Regions from separate parts of the Homo sapiens genome. Here all the other regions are linked to region 3. Evidence: fine-mapped expression QTL. A gene starts in region 3. Each other region holds a variant in brackets. All regions are shown on one strand. Distances are between the middles of the regions.

Region 1 (5,224 bases), 140 kb before region 3:
GTCAGGGGTCCCTGATATCTGTGGTCCAAGCTCTACAAATGCGTGTGTTCACTGTACAGCAGGGGAAGTGTGCCTTTGAGTTTCTGCTAAATAGGCTTAATTCCACCTGCCACAAGCTGACAAAGACCTGAGATCAGGGCTTCATGCTATCTAGTTATCTCCCTGTGTACCTTTGCCCTTTCCATTTACCTATAAACGGCATGCCTGGGCAACGCACCAGGATCTACTTCCATCAGGTTGGTGGAAAAGTAATTGCGGTTTTTGCCATTACATTTATGACATTGCAATTACTTTTTTTTTTTTTTTTTTTTGAGACGGAGTCTCACTCTGTTGACCGGGCTGGAGTGCAGTGGCATGATCTCGGCTCACTACAACCTCTGCCTCCCAGGTTCAAGCAATTCTCTGCCTCAGCCTCCCGAGTAGCTGGGATTACAGGCACCTGCCACCATGCCCAGCTGATGTTTGTATATTTAGTAGAGATGGGGTTTTCACCATGTTGCCCAGGCTGGTCTTGAACTCCTGACCTCGTGATTCACCCGTCTCGGCTTCCCAAGGTGTTGGGATTACAGGCGTGAGCCACCATGCCCGGCCTTTTTATTTTTATTGATTTTTTTTTTTTAGGTGGGGTCTCACTTTGTCATCCAGGCTGGAGTGCAGTGGCACGATCTTAGCTCACTGCAACCTCCGCTTCCCAGGTTCAAGCGATTCTTCTGCCTCAGCCTCCTGAGTAGCTGGGATTACAGGCATGTGCCACCATGCCTGGCTAATTTTTGTATTTTTAGTAGAGATGGGATTTCACCATGCAACCCCAGCTCACTGTAACCTCTGCCTCCCAGGTTCAAGCAATTCTCTGCCTCAGCCTCCCGAGTACCTGGGATTACAGGCACCCGCTGCCATGCCCAGCTAATTTTTATATTTTTAGTAGAGACAGGGTTTCACCATTTTGGCCAGGCTGGTCTGGAACTCCTGACCTCAGGTGATCCACCCATCTCAGCCTCCCAAAGTGGTGGGATTACAGACGTGAGGCACTGCACCCAGCCAAGAAACCGCAGTTACTTTTGCACCAACCTAATAGGAGCCATTCCTGGACATTGGTCCCGTTTTTATTTTATGATCCAGGGGCTCCATCTGGATTTGCAGGAAGAGAGAACAGAAGTTTCACACTGATTCCAGGCCAAAGCCTTGAGCGCTAGCACCCGTTGGCAGAGGACTCCTGCATTTGCAGGATATTTAGGAACGCCCTGGCAACAACAGAAGTGGAACATTCCTCATTTTTCACTGCCCTTCTGACGCTGTGCACGTAATTTTTTTGTAGAAGGAAATAGATCAAATTGTAGGAGTTAGGAAGCAAATGCCTGAGGTTGAATGCGCTCTGTATTTGGTATCTGCTGGATGATAGGAAATGGGTTTTTTTGTTTTGTTTTGTTTTTGTTTTTGTTTTTTTTTTGAGACAGAGTTTTGCTCTTGCTGCCCAGGCTGGAGTGCAATGACGCGATCTCGACTCACTGCGACCTCCGCTTCCCGGGTTCAAGCGATTCTCCTGCCTCAGCCTCCTGCGTAGCTGGGATTACAGGCATGCGCGACCATGCGTGGCTAATTTGGTATTTTTAGTAGAGACGGGGTTTCTGCATGTCGGTCGGGCTGGTCTCAAACTCCCGACCTCAGGTGATCCACCTGACTCAGGCCTCCCAAAGTGCTGGGATTACAGGCATGAGCCACCTCGCCCAGCCAGGAAATGGTTTTATTGTGGACTTCTATTTTAGTCCCCCACCCCCAGGAAGTATAATCCCTCTAACTGCCTGGATGGCTCCCATCCTGTTTATAAGACTCCAGGGAGGGAATCATCAGTCTCGTTTCAATCTATAGATTGGTGCAAAAGTAACTGTGGTTTTGGCCATTACTTTCAATGGCAAATCTGCAATTACTTTTGCACCAACCTTAATAGGGTTCCTAATTGTTAGGATGTATTGCAAGACACTATAGTGGCATAGCCCAGATGGGGCAAACAGAATATGTATGGTTTGTTTCCTGACTCTGAGCAGTCAGCAGTCGATGCACAGAACTCTGCACGCCCCTCCCCCCACAGTGTCTATTCCGGTTCAAGCATGCCTACTGAAACACTAATTTAAGTCCTTTAATTTCTACCGGTTGACCCTGATGATGTCTGTGATGTTTAGACTTTTGTGTCAGCTTGGCTAGCCTGCAGTACGCAGTTTTTTGTTTTTTTTTAACAGAATCTTGCCCTGTCGTCCAGGCTGGAGTGCAGTGGCACAATCTCAGCTCACTGCAACCTCTGCCACCCGGGTTCAAGCAATTCTCCTGCCTCAGCCTCCTGAGTAGCTGGGATTACAGGTGCCCGCCACCACACCCGGCTAATTTTTGTATTTTTAGTAGAGACGGGGTTTCACCATGTTGGCCAGGCTGGTCCTGAACTCCTGACCTCAGGTGATCCACCTGCCTCAGCCTCCCAGGCATGAGCCACTGTGCCCGGCCCAGTACCCACTTGTTTAATCAAATGCTAGCCTAGGTGTTGCTGTGACAGTATTTCGTAGACACAGTTAACATCTACAATCAGTTGATTTTAAATAAAGGAGATGAATGGCGATAACCTGGGTGGGCCCAAGCTAATCAGTTGAAGGCCTTAAGAACATAAAGAGGTTTCCTGTAGAAGAAATTCTGCCTGAAGACTGCAGCATCAAATCCTCTCTAAGCTTCCAAACTTCCAGCGTGCCCTACAGATTTTGGACTTGCCAGCCTCTACAACTGCATGAGTCAATTTCGTCAATTTCTTTACTCCTCCCTGCCGT[GT/G]TTTTTTTTTTTTTGAAACAGAGTCTCGCTCTGTCGCCCAGGCTAGAGTGCAGTGGCACGATCTCAGCTCACTGCAACCTCCGCCTTCTGGGTTCAAGCGATTCTTGTGCCTCAGCCTCCCAAGTAGCTGGGATTACAGGCGTGCGCCACCATGCCCAGCTAATTTTTGTGTTTTTAGTAGAGACGGGGTTTCCCCATACTGGCCAGGCTGGTCTTGAACTCTTGACCTCATGCAATCCACCCACCTCTGCCTCCTAAAGTGTTGGGATTACAGGCATGAGCCGCCGTACCCAGCCCAATTTCTTGAAATCAATCACTTTCCTGTTGATTCTGTTTCCCTGGAGAGTGCTAACTGTCCCCTTATCCTATGCCACAGATTTACTCTTCTGATCCTTTCATTTATTTGATACTCGGTGAATTATACGAACACTAACTATGGGCTGGGCCCCATCTTGTCCAATAATTTCCCCTCTGCATATAAGCCCAGACTCAATTTAAGATCCCTAAAACATGCACCAGTGCCCAGATGTCCTTAATGGAGCTAAGGTTTCAGGCTATTGAAGATGTTAGGAAGGGAGGACAGAAACCAAACACAGTAAGTTCTCAACACAGAATTCAGAATTTCTCTCTTATTCTATATGATTGTTCTTCTGACTACATATATACCTTTTGTGACAAAATACGAACACCTTTGGAGATTAAGTGCTTAACCAGTGGGATTGCTTCATATATCATTATCTGTAGCCTCACTCCCTCAATTATTTCTTTCTTTTTTTTTTTTTTTTTTTTTTGAGACAGGGTGTTGCTCTGTCACCCAGGCTGGAGTGCAGTGGCAGGATCTCGGCTCACTGCAACCTCTGCCTCCCGGGTTCAAGCGATTCTCCTGCCTCAACCTCCCGAGTAGCTGGGACTACGGGCATACGCCACCATGCCCGGCTAATTTTTTTTTTTTTTTGTAAAAAGAGAGGGGGTTTCACCATGTTGGCCAGGTTGGTCTTGAACTCCTGACCTCAAATGATCTGCCTGCCTCGGCCTCCCAAAGTGCTGAGGTTACAGGCGTGAGCCACCGTGCCCAGCCATCTACTCTTAAGTTTGGTTGAAGTTTGTTTATATATTGTTAGGTTACAGTTTGCCACATAAGGAGGCAGCTTTAGGCCAAATTTCACTTAATTTAAACAACTGGTTTTCTCAATGCTGCAGTGAGGTGAGGGCAGAAAGGCTTGAGCGCTTGATGTGTCGGGAGGGAAATATCTTCACTAACATAGAACAACCTGAAATTTCAATGGATCACATCTGAGAAATGAATCTGAGGTTGAGTTGAAATCAAATATATAAAGTCAGGTAGGAGTGAGGACAAAATGCCAATACTTGATGTTTCATAAATGCTTTCATACATACCAGGGAACTATTATTATCTCTATTTTAGAGTTAAAAAAGGGGGTGTTCAGAGTGGTTAATCATTTTACGAAGTCATGTAGCTCCTAAGTGGCAGAGCTGGGATTTGATCCCAGGCACTTTCATTCCAAGTCTGTGTTTGTAATCTGTGACTTATGGTCCCCAAAAGATACGTTCACGTCCCAACCTCTGGAACCTACCAATGTGACCTTATTTGGAAAAAGGGTCTTTGCAGATGGCATCAAGTGAAGAATCTCAAGATGAGAGTATCATTAATTACCTGGTGGGCCTTAAATCCAATAACAAGTATCCTTATGAGATAAAAAAGAGGAGAAGACACAGGCACACAGAGTAGAAGGCCACATGAAGTTGGAGGCAGAGACTGGAGTGTTGCAGCCATAAGCCACCGAAGGTCTGCAGCCACCAGGCGCTGGAAGAGACCAGGAAGGATCCTTCCCCAGAGCCTCCAGAGGGAATGTGGCCTGACCGATACCTTGATTTTGGACTTCTGGCCTCCAGCACTGTGAGAGAATAACCCACGATAGTGTGGTGGTTTGCTCTGGCAGGCACAGGAAGCTAATACAGTGCTCTTTAGTTCTACATGGCCCCGCTTCCTCCAGAGCTACGTGGGCCTTCCCTATTAGTTGATGTTCATCAGTTCTATTGCACAAAGCTGAAGATGTCCAACAACGGTACTCAAATCCCACACATCCTTGGGGACCTTGAGGGTTCTAGGCTCTCTAAGGTAAGGTGCCTGTTAGGGAGGACAGAATCCAGAAACAGTGAGTTCGTTTTTTTTTCTTTTCTTTTTCTGTTTTTTTTGAGAGGGAGTTTCACTCTTATTGCCTGGCTGGAGTGCAATGGCAAGATCTCGGCTCACTGCAACCTCCGCCTTCCGGGTTCAAGCAATTCTCCTGCCTCAGCCTCCCGAGTAGCTGGAATTACAGGCATGTGTCACCACTCCAGGCTAATTTTGTATTTTTAGTAGAGATGGGGTTTCACCATGTTGGCCAGGCTGGTC
Region 2 (5,224 bases), 170 kb before region 3:
TTCTGTGGTGTATGTGTATGGTATGTATCCCTAATATAGATAAGTTATACAAAGTCTCAGCATTTATCTTTTTTTTTTTTTTTGAGATGGAGTCTTGCTCTGTCTCCCAGGCAGGAGTACAGTGTTGTAATCTCGGCTCACTGCAACCTCTGCCTCCTGGGTTCAAGCGATTCTCATGTCTCAGCCCCACCCCAAGTAGCTGGGACTACAGGTGGGCGCCACCACACATGGCTAATTTTTGTATTTTTAGTAGAAACAGAGTTTCACCATGTTGCCCAGGCTGGTCTCGAACTCCTGAGCTCAAGTGATACACTTGCCTTGGTCTCTCAAAGTGCTGGGATTACAGGCGTGAGCCACCGTACCCGGCCAACGTTTACTTTTACGATTGCCCAAGACTCTGGGTCTTTTGAAGGATTTAATTCTTTTCTTCCACGGAGGACTGTCCCAGATGTATTAGAACTGTAGGATTTTGGAAAAATGGATTTTTGTTTTGAGCCGGAGTTTCACTCTTGTTGCCCAGGCTGGAGTGCAAATGGCAGGATCTCGGCTCACTGCAGCCTCCTCCTCCCAGGTTCAAGTGATTCTCCTGCCTCAGCCTCCCGAGTAGCTGGGATTACAGGCGCCCACCACCACACTTGGCTAATTTTTTGTATTTTTAGTAGAGATGGGCTTTCTCCGTGTTAGCCAGGCTGGTCTTGAACTCCTGACCTCAGGTGATCCACCCGCCTTGGCCTCCCAAAGTGCTGGGATTACAAGCATGAGCCACCACGCCTGGCCCTGGAAAAATGGATTCTTTCACCCCATGCAATAGACATTTCCATTCATCTTGGCACCTTACAGCGTGTGATAGCAAAGTCTCTCTTCTCTCCCTTTTCCAGGTGAGGCATTCCTTCACACATTTCTTCATCCAGGACAGATCTCTTTTTTTTTTTTTTTTTTTTTTTTTTTGAGACGGAGTCTTGCTCTGTCGCCCAGGCTGGAGTGCAGTGGCACGATCTTGGCTCACTGCAAGCTCCGCCTCCTGGGTTCACACCATTCTCCTGCTTCAGCCTCCCGAGTAGCTGGGACCACAGGCACCCGCCACCATGCCCGGCTAATTTTTTGTATTTTTAGTGGAGATGGGGTTTCACCATGTTAGCCAGGATGGTCTTGATCTCCTGACCTTGTGATCCGCCCGCCTCGGCTTCCCAAAGTGCTGGGATTACAGGCATGAGCCACCGCACCCGGCCCATCCAGGACAGATCTCTATGCTAACTCACCAGTGGGGCAGCTGCACTGTGGCCATCCCCAACCCCGTCCTTGTCCTCATTTCTCAGGTGAATCACAGCTTGTAGGTCTAGCAAGGGTTGCTAGTTAACCTGCTCACTGTCTGTAGAATGGATAATGCTCATGTCACATTCTGAGGAAAGAGAATCTGAATGACCTCACGTAAGTCAGATAACCTTCCCGGGCGGAACCAATTTTCCCCACCCACCTACAGCCCACATCAGTACCACAAGAAGAGGCTCCCTGCTGAGGCCACGGGAGAAGTGTTCTGGGCGATGAGCAATTAAAGCTGATAAATTGGCCGGGCGCCGTGGCTCATGCCTGTAATCCCAGCACTTTGGGAGGCCGAGGTGGGCGGATCACAAGGTCAGGAGATCGAGACCAGCCTAGCTAAGATGGTGAAACCATGTCTTTACTAAAGATACAAAAATTAGCTGGGTGTGGTGGCGTGTGCCTGTAATTTCCAGCTACTCGGGAGGCTGAGGCAGAAGAATCACTTGAATCCTGGAGGCGGACGTTGCAGTGAGCTGAGATCGCACCACTGCACTCCAGCCTGGGTGATAGAGCAAGACTTCATCTCGGAAAAAAAAAAAAAAAAAAAGCACTCTTTCATCTCAACTGTTAGCGCCCAGTTGTGACCATAGGCATGCATGCCGTGTATTCTGGTATATTTGGAAACCAGAGGATTTTCTTTTACCTTTTCTCAGAAGTTGTGCTTTGTCCACTACATAATCAACACTCAGGAGGGAATAATTGGACATCTTGTTTTCTTTCATGCTCTGAAAGGAGCTGTTCTTGAGAATTAAGTTCAGTTCTTCGGGTTCTAACGTCTTTCCCAGGAATTGACAGATCTTCTCTATGGTTCTTCCTGTGTCCTAAAAAAGAAAAATCAAGAGAGAGGATACGAAAGAGAAAGACAAGGCTGGGCGTGGTGGTTCACGCCTGTAATCCCAGCACTCTGGGAGGCTGAGGCGGTTGGATCACTTGAGATCAGGAGTTCGA[G/C]ACTAGCCTGGCCAACGTGGTGAAACCCCATCTCTACTAAAAATACAAAAATTGGCAGGGTGTGGTGGTGGGCGCCGGTAATCCCAGCTACTCGGGAGGTTGGGGGAGGAGAGTTGCTTGAACCCAGGAGGTGGAGGGTGCAGTGAGCTGAGATCACGCCACTGCACTCCAGCCTGGTGACAGAGTGAGACCTTGTCAAAAAAAAAAAAAAAAAAAAAAAAAGACAATAGAAAAAAGTAAGATGAGAAGGAGGGAACCGCAGAATGAGGAGGAGGAGGAAGAAGAGAGGAACAACATGCAGATGTGAGAAGGGATTGAGTTGAATGCAATTAGGAGAAAGAAAGAAAAAAGGTAAAGAAGAGAGGGCATGAAGTATGTAAAAGATGCAAGGATGGGTTGGGCGCCGTGGCTCCTGCCTGTAATTCCAGCACTTTGGGAGGCTGAGGCAGGCGGATCACTTGAGTCCGGGAGTTTTAGACCAGCCTGGGCGATATAGTGAGACCCTGTCTCTACAAAAAATACAAAAATTAGCCAGGCATGGTGGCGCACAGCTGTGGTACCAGCTACTTGGGAGGCTGAGGTGGGAGGATCACCTGAACCCAGGAAGTTGAGGCTGCAGTGAGCTGTGATTGCACCACTGTACTCCAGCCTGGGCGTTGGAGTGAGACCCTGTCTCAAAAACAAAACAAAGCAAAACAAAACAAAACAAAACCAACCAGAAAACCACAAAAGATGCAAGGATCATCGTGGATTTTCCCGTATGGTAGAGTTTAGGACAACTTAACAGTAAAACACAGAGCCTCGGGTTTCCTAAGAGACGTTTAGAGAGGCTTCTAGACAGTAATTAGGGTTAGCAAGGAGAGGTTCAGGGAGAATCTGATGGAGATTGAAGGCTTGATTTCAAATCCTGGCTGTACTGTCAGATAGTACTGTTTCCCATAACTAGCTTTTGAATAACACACAGAGTTTTACAATATCTTCTTATATTTCATCTCAATAATTAGGACTAGGTACATGATCCTGGGAGATTAATAGATTTTTATTTTTAAAATTTTATTTATGTATTTATTTAGAGACAAGATCTCACTCTGTCGCCCAGGCTGGAGTGCAGTGGCATGATCTCAGCTCACTGCAACCTCCGCCTCCCAGGCTCAAGCAATTCTCCTGTCTCAACCTCCCGAGTAGCTGGGGTTACAGGCGTGCGCCACCACTCCCGGCTAATTTACGTATTTTTAGTAGAGAGGGAGTATCACCATGTTGGCCAAGCTGGGTTCCAACTCCTGAGCTCAGGTGATCTGCCCACCTCAGCCTCCCAAAGTGCTGGGATTATGGATGTGAACCACCGCACCTGGCCAACAAAATGGATTATTGTAACCAGAAGGACTTTGCTTTGAATCATAGGCCTTACTCTTAGATCTATAATGCTTTAATTTTTTCCTCTATTTCATAAACCTTGGTTATCTAATAAGAAGATGTACAACTATGGAAATAACTAAAATAAGTTCATTGTGTGATCCGAAAGGAAGATCCCAGGAAGGTATGGGATCGTGTATCTGAGGTAGCCAACCAAACTTGTTACAAAGGGCTTCTTAACAGAAATGAAATTCATTCCAGCTTGGTCAACGTGGTGAAACCCCATCTGTACCAAAGATACAAAAATTAGCCAGGTGTTGTAGTGCATGCCTGTAATCCTAGCTACTTGGGAGGCTGAGGCACGAGAATCACTTGAACCGGAGAGGTGGAGATTGCAATGAACTGAGATTGCGCCACTGCACTCCAGCCTGGGTGACAGAGCAAGACTCTGTCTAAAAAAAAAAAAAAAAAAAAAGATGGCCGGGCGCGGTGGCTCATGCCTGTAATCCTAGCACTTTGGGAGGCCTACGGGAGGATTGCCTGAGCTCAGGAGTTCGAGACCAGCCTGGGCAACATGGTGAAACCCTGTCTCTACTAAAAATACAAAAAAAAATTAGCTGGGCATGGCGGCGTGCATCTGTAGTCCCAGCTACTCAGGAGGCTGAGGCAGAAGAATCGCTTGAACCCGAGAGGCGGAGGTTGCAGTGAGCCGAGATCGTGCCACTGCACTCCAGCCTGGGCGACAGAGCAAGACTCCACCTCATAAAAAAAAAAAAAAAAGAAATTCATGCCCAGACCATAGGCCATAGAGGATTGGAGAGGATGAGCCAGAGGAAGGTGTTGGGACGTGACGTTTCCCAGGTGGTACAAAATCCAATGTTGGTGTTATTTTCTCTTTTATGTGAGATATCACTAATAGGTCAAGTTCTTTTTTTTTTTTGAGATGGAGTCTTGCTCTGTTGCCCAGGCTGGAGTGCAATGGCATGATCTCGGCTCACTGCAACCTCCGCCTCCTGGGTTCAAGCGATTCTCCTGAGTAGCTGGGTCCTGAGTAGCTGGGACTACAGGTGCACAACACCACGCCTGGCTAATTTTTTATATTTTTGGTAGAGATGGGATTTCGCCATGTTGCCCAGGCTGGTATCGAACTCCTGACCTCAAGTGATCCCCCTACTTTGGCCTCCCAAAGTGCTGGGATTACAGGTGTGAGACACCGTGCCCAGCCTTCTTTTTCTTTCTTTTTTTTTTTTTTTGAGACAGGGTCTCATTCTGTTGCCCAGCCTAGAGTGCAGTGGTGTGATCTCGGCTCACTGCAACCTCTTCCTCCTGGGTTCAAGTGATTCTCCTACCTCAGCCTCCCAAGTAGCTGGGACTACAGGTGCCTGCCACCATGCCCGGCTAATTTTTTGTATTTTTAGTAGAGATGGGGTCTTGCTATGTTGGCCAGGCTGGTCTCGAACTCCTGGACTCAAGCCATCCACCTGCCTTCACCTCCCCAGTGCTGGGATTACAGGCGTGAGCCACTGAGCTTGGCCTCAAGTTGTTCTTTCAATACTTGCTGGTTCTGAGTATCATCGGACAGCTTTTCCTCTCCGTCACTATT
Region 3 (5,224 bases):
TGCACAAAGGGACTGAGGGCAGGTCAGGTGGGTGGATGGCAACGTGGAAGCAACTGGGGAAGACGGTGTTACCTTCAATCTCATCTTGTCCCAGTGGTCTTTCCTGGAAAGGAATGCAGATGAGAGGGAATTTGGAGAGAGGGTCACCCATTCTCCAAAGGGTCTCCTTGTTCTCCCAAGCTCCTCCCCACGCTCTCGTGGTTCTCTTTCCATTCTCTCTCTCCTCCTCCATCCCTCCCATTCCTTTTCCCATCTCCTGACTCCTGTTCCACAGTTCTTGGCTCCCCACCCCCCTCTCGATGTCTCTCTCCCACCCACGAATCCCAATCTCCCTTTTTCTCCCTTTCTGAGACAAACACCCATCACATTGTGTCAAAGGGGGTCTTAAACACTGGGGAGTCCAATCTCCAGATGAAAAAAGTGAGACTTCACAACCACAGCTAACTCATTCAGAGTGGTGACTCTGTGCCAGGCAGTTTCCACAATCATTTCATTTAAACCTCAGTACTGCTCTGTGATGCAGATCTACATCTCGTTTCCATCTTACCCATGAGAAAGCTGAGGAACAGAGAGGTTAAGGAACCTGCACAAGGTCACACAGCTCACAAGCAGCAGATCCCCTCCCAAGGGAGGAAGGCATTCACCTGCTCCCTGGAGGTCATGGGGCAAGTCAGACACAGTATTGGGATTTGAATTCAGGGCTCCTGACTCCCAAGTCAGAATTCTTCACACTAGCCCCCATTCACTCCTTTCTCACCTGCCTCCAATCTTCCTGCCAAAGGTTAGAATCTCTGTGCATGGAAACAGCATTCAATGGCTTTCAGGCAGGAGGGTCAGTGCCAGCATGACCAGTTCCTAAACACTCTGAGAATGTCCAGTTATTGCTGCCCCACCTACTCCTGCACATACCTGAAGGGTTGGGCTTACATATACATGGCATGTTAACAAGGAAATTCTACTGACCTCTGGTCTCTTTAGCCTTCCCATCTCCCTTTATCCCTGGAGCCTTTCCCTCAGCTTCTCTTTCATCTGATCCCCTCCTTGCGGTCCCTTATCACCCTTTTTTTCATTCTCTCTCTCTTTTTTTTTTTTGAGACACAGTCTCGCTCTGTCACCCAAGCTGGAGTGCAGTGGCACGAACTCGGCTCACTGCAACCTCTGCCTCCCGGGTTCAAGCGATTCTCCTGCCTCAGCCTCCCGAGTAGCTGGGATTACAGGCGCCTGCCACTGCACCCGGCTAATTTTTGTATTTCTAATAGAGACAGGGTTTCACCATCTTGGCCAGGCTGGTCTTGACCTCCTGACCTCGTGATCCACCTGCTTTGGCCTCCCAAAGGGCTGGGATCACAGGCGTGAGCCACTGCCTGGCCTTTTTTATTCTCTTTTTTTGGTGATCTTAAAGCCTAACAATGAAAAGTATGCCCACATATCTGGACAAGTTGGTATATATGGAAAAATAAAAAAATTTTAAAAAGCATGCCCACAGGAATCAAGCAAACCCGACCCTGCCACTTACTTTTTTTTAACGAGACAAAGTCTCACTTTGTTGCCCAGGCTGGAGTGCAGTGGCATAATCAGGGCTCACTGCAGCCTCCACTTCCTGGGCTCAAGCGATCCTCCTGCCTCAGCCACCTGAGTAGCTGGGACTGCAGATGCATGCCACCATGCTGAGCTATTTTTTTGTATTTTTAGTAGAGATGGGGTCTTGTGTTTCCCAGGCTGGTCTCAAACTCCTGGACATAAGTGATCCTCCCGCCTCTGCCTCCCAAGATGCTGCGATTCAGGCATGAGCCACTATACTTGGCCGACCCTGCCACTTACTAACTGTGTAAGCTTAAGGCAAATGACTTCATGACTCAGAGCTTCACTTTCCTCACCTGTAAAATGGGAATGAAAGTCACTGACCTCATGAGTTGTTCTGAGGTGTAAATAACATCAGGTGTGCAAATCCCTTTGCACAGGGCTGGGCACAGAACAATGACTTAATAAGTGGCAGCTATTGTTATTAACGTCATCATTATCATCACCACCACCACCATCATCACCACCATTATCACAATGAGCATCCATAGAAAAGAATGATGGTAATCTCAACAATGACATCATCCCACTTTCCCTTTTCATTTTTCTTCCTTTTCTCTCCTTCTCTTTGCTCCTGACTTTTGATTTTACCCCCACCCATTTATCTCACTGGCTTACATGACCCCACCAGGGTCCTTGGAATTTCTTATACCTTCTCAGCTCCTGCTCTATCCACCTGTTCCCCTGGTTCTGTGGCACCATCATGTCCCCTTCTTTGTCCCACACCCCTGCTCCCTTTGCCCCGCCCACCGCCCTTCCCCCTCACTCCCCACCTCACCCGCTGTTTCTCAGCAATGCCTTTCCTCAAGAAGATGCAGGCGGGGCCCATGGGGAACTGCATGGAGGGGTGGGGTGGAGCTCGCAGGGCACCAGTCTCAAGATGGCCCCTCCTCCCTGCTCCCTGTCGGAGCTCAGCCTCCTTATCTTCTCCAGCACTCCTTTGCCACCTCTTCCTGCCTCTCTTGGCTTCTCCTTCGGTCCCGGTGTCTTAGAGCTGTGACAGCTGGGCTGGAAATCTCTACCCGGGTTGGGGAGGGACCAGAGCTGTCCCTGCCTCCCCATCTGGCTTGAATGATATGGGTGGGGAAATGCAGAGTCAGGTTCTGTGACGCCTTTATCCCCAGAGTGGAATTGGAAAGTGCATTTTATAAATGGGGATTAGAGGCTGGATGTGGTGCTCATGTCTGTAGTCCCAGCGCTTTGGGAGGCTGAGGTGGGAGGATTGCTTGAGCCCAGGAGTTTGAGACCAGCTGAGCAACATACGGAGAGGCTGTCTTTACAAAAAATAAAAAAATTAGCCGTGCATGGTGGCACACACCTGTAGTCCCAGCTGCTCCAAAGGCAGAGATGGGAGGATTGCTTGAGCCCAGGAGTTCAAGGCTGCAGTGAGCTATGATTGTACCATTGCACTCCAGGCTGCAGTGAACTACGATTGCACCATTGTACTCCAGCCTGGCTGACATAGTGAGACCCTGTCTCGAAAAAAAGAAAAAAAAAGAAAAAAAAGAAAAGAAAATGGAGGATTAGAGCAGACGGCATCATTTATTCAATGTTCCAACAAGCATGTGAAGGGTCACTCCAACACTGGCCTCTGGGCAGTGAGATGGAGAGCTCAGCACCCCTGGCCTCAGGGAGTTTTCCTGGGTGAGTCGGGAATGTGTGAGAGTGAGCAGGATGCAAGCATGGACTTCAGGAAGTGGGCGTACACGGTGACTAAGAGCATGGCATTTGCTCTTCCTCTGTTCATCTCTTTCCTTCTGTCTTTCCTGAATGATTTAGAGGGAAAAAGCAAGGTGGGGGTGTCAGGGAGGGTGTGAAGTTATGGTGGTGTCAAAGCCCAAAGGGGTTTTGCGACTCCACACTAGGTAGGGTTAGGGGAGGAGGGGGCTGGGGGCCATCTGGCGTGGAGAGCCAGCATTCCAGTGGGGTAGTGGGGTGAGGAGAAGTCCACATAGAGGGGCAGCATGACCCAGGGTGTTGGGGCTGGAGATGGTGGGGATAAATCCACAGATGGGCAGCTTGGTGTGCAGTGTTGGAACATGAGCTGAGTGGGGCGGGGGCATTTATATGCAGGCATTGTCTGGGGTGGAGGTTTGCACTGTAAGGCAATTAGGAAGGAGGCCACATAGAGGGGATCTGGCATGGGTTGTCATAACCCAAGCAGAGAGAGAAATGTCCACTCATGGGAATAGCATGGTGTATGGTGTTGAAGCCAGACTAGGCTGGGAAAGACATCCCCACAGGGGTGAAATGGCAAAGGAAAAGGGAAATTGGCTACACACAGTGAGTAAGGGGAATGGGGGCCAGGTCTCCTACTGTTGGAAAAGGGAGTTACTAAGACAGAAAGGAGGAAAGTCGAATGAGCCCTGTGGTGTTGGACTATAACTGGAGGCGTTGGTATGTCCTCATGGATCTCAATTATACATAGAGAGATAAAAATAAACACATAGTTTCAGTGTGTATAGGAACATTTGTACACATATTCTCTAGCTCTCTCCACTAAGAGAACATAGAAACAATGATGGCCCATATGAATGAGCACCACTAGCATCCAAATCTTGACTTCTATATACCATTCTCCACCAAATGGAACCAGAGTGCCTAGGAAATTTGGCTGATTCCATGTCTAGAGCAAAAAAAGAACAAGATGAGCCTACAAACGTCCTATGCTTAAAGCAAGAAATTGCTCAAAGTGTTGTGAGAACATGTGGAAAGAACACAGGAGTCTGCTTGAAGAAGCTCCATTGGCCATACTGGGCAGTTTGAGAGTCAAAATAAATAATGATAGTAACAAATTATACAGGACCACAGAAGAAACCAGGAGTCCATACTCAGATAAATAAAAAGCTAAGTGAGAAGTTTGATATTTACAGAGCTCAAAATACCTCCCTACAAAATACCAATTTCAAAGGAGTTACGTTATAGTGGAGAAACGTGGCAAACACCATCTTAGTCAATGAAAGTGGACATCATCAGTAATGTGACAAGTTGGAATTTCACACCACCTGACAGGATGTCACGAGAACAGCATCGCTTCTGTAAGATTCCTGAATCTCATCATAATCAGACGTCAGACGAACCCACATGGAGGGATGGTTTACAAAATAACTGGCCTGTAAGCTTCAAAAATGTCAAGGTCATGAAAATCAAGGAAAGATTGAGGAACCGTTCGAGATTGGAGGAGACTAAGAAGACATGGCCGAGGCTGGGCGCGATGGCTCACACCTGTAATCCCAGCAATTTGGGAGGCTGAGGTGGGCAGATCACCTGAGGTCAGGAGTTCGAGACCAGCCTAACCAACGTGGAGAAACCCCGTCTCTACTAAAAATACAAAAAAATTAGCCCGGCATGGTGGCACATGCCTGTAATCCCTGCTACTCGGGAGGCTGAGGCAGCAGAATCGCTTAAACCCAGGAGGCGGAGGTTGCAGTGAGCCCAAGATCGTGCCATTGCACTCCAGCCTGGGCAACAAGAGCAAAACTCTGTCCAAAAAAAAAAAAAAAAAAAAAAAAAAGCTACGACTGAATGCAACACAGAATTCTGAACAGGATCCTTCTGCTATCAAGGTCTTCTTTCGGATGACTGGTGGTTTGCTGGCAATAGTTTGGCGGCCCTTGGTCAGTAGAGCCTCACCCCAATCCCT

Evidence for each region. PIP is the estimated chance that this variant, and not a neighbour inherited with it, causes the effect. A credible set is the group of variants that fine-mapping cannot tell apart.
Region 1: its variant is the best candidate, but not a certain one, in a credible set for the expression of CABP5 in whole blood (INTERVAL, PIP 0.62).
Region 2: its variant is the best candidate, but not a certain one, in a credible set for the expression of CABP5 in whole blood (TOPMed, PIP 0.84).

The regions. Positions count from the first base shown.
Region 1 is chr19:47,896,874-47,902,097 of GRCh38, forward strand. No RefSeq gene overlaps it. Among named protein-coding and RNA genes, the nearest start is that of SNAR-A12, 8.2 kb to the right of the region's middle. RefSeq lists an enhancer at 1-293 and a silencer at 1-293. The variant GT/G (reference allele first, on the strand shown) is at 2,808.
Region 2 is chr19:47,872,694-47,877,917 of GRCh38, forward strand. SULT2A1 (sulfotransferase family 2A member 1) reads right to left here. Exons shown (of 6, transcript NM_003167.4): 5 at 1,964-2,141. Among named protein-coding and RNA genes, the nearest start is that of LINC01595, 5.9 kb to the left of the region's middle. The variant G/C (reference allele first, on the strand shown) is at 2,269.
Region 3 is chr19:48,041,501-48,046,724 of GRCh38, forward strand. CABP5 (calcium binding protein 5) reads right to left here and starts at 2,579. Exons shown (of 6, transcript NM_019855.5): 1 at 2,360-2,579; 2 at 73-103. The coding sequence starts at 2,422.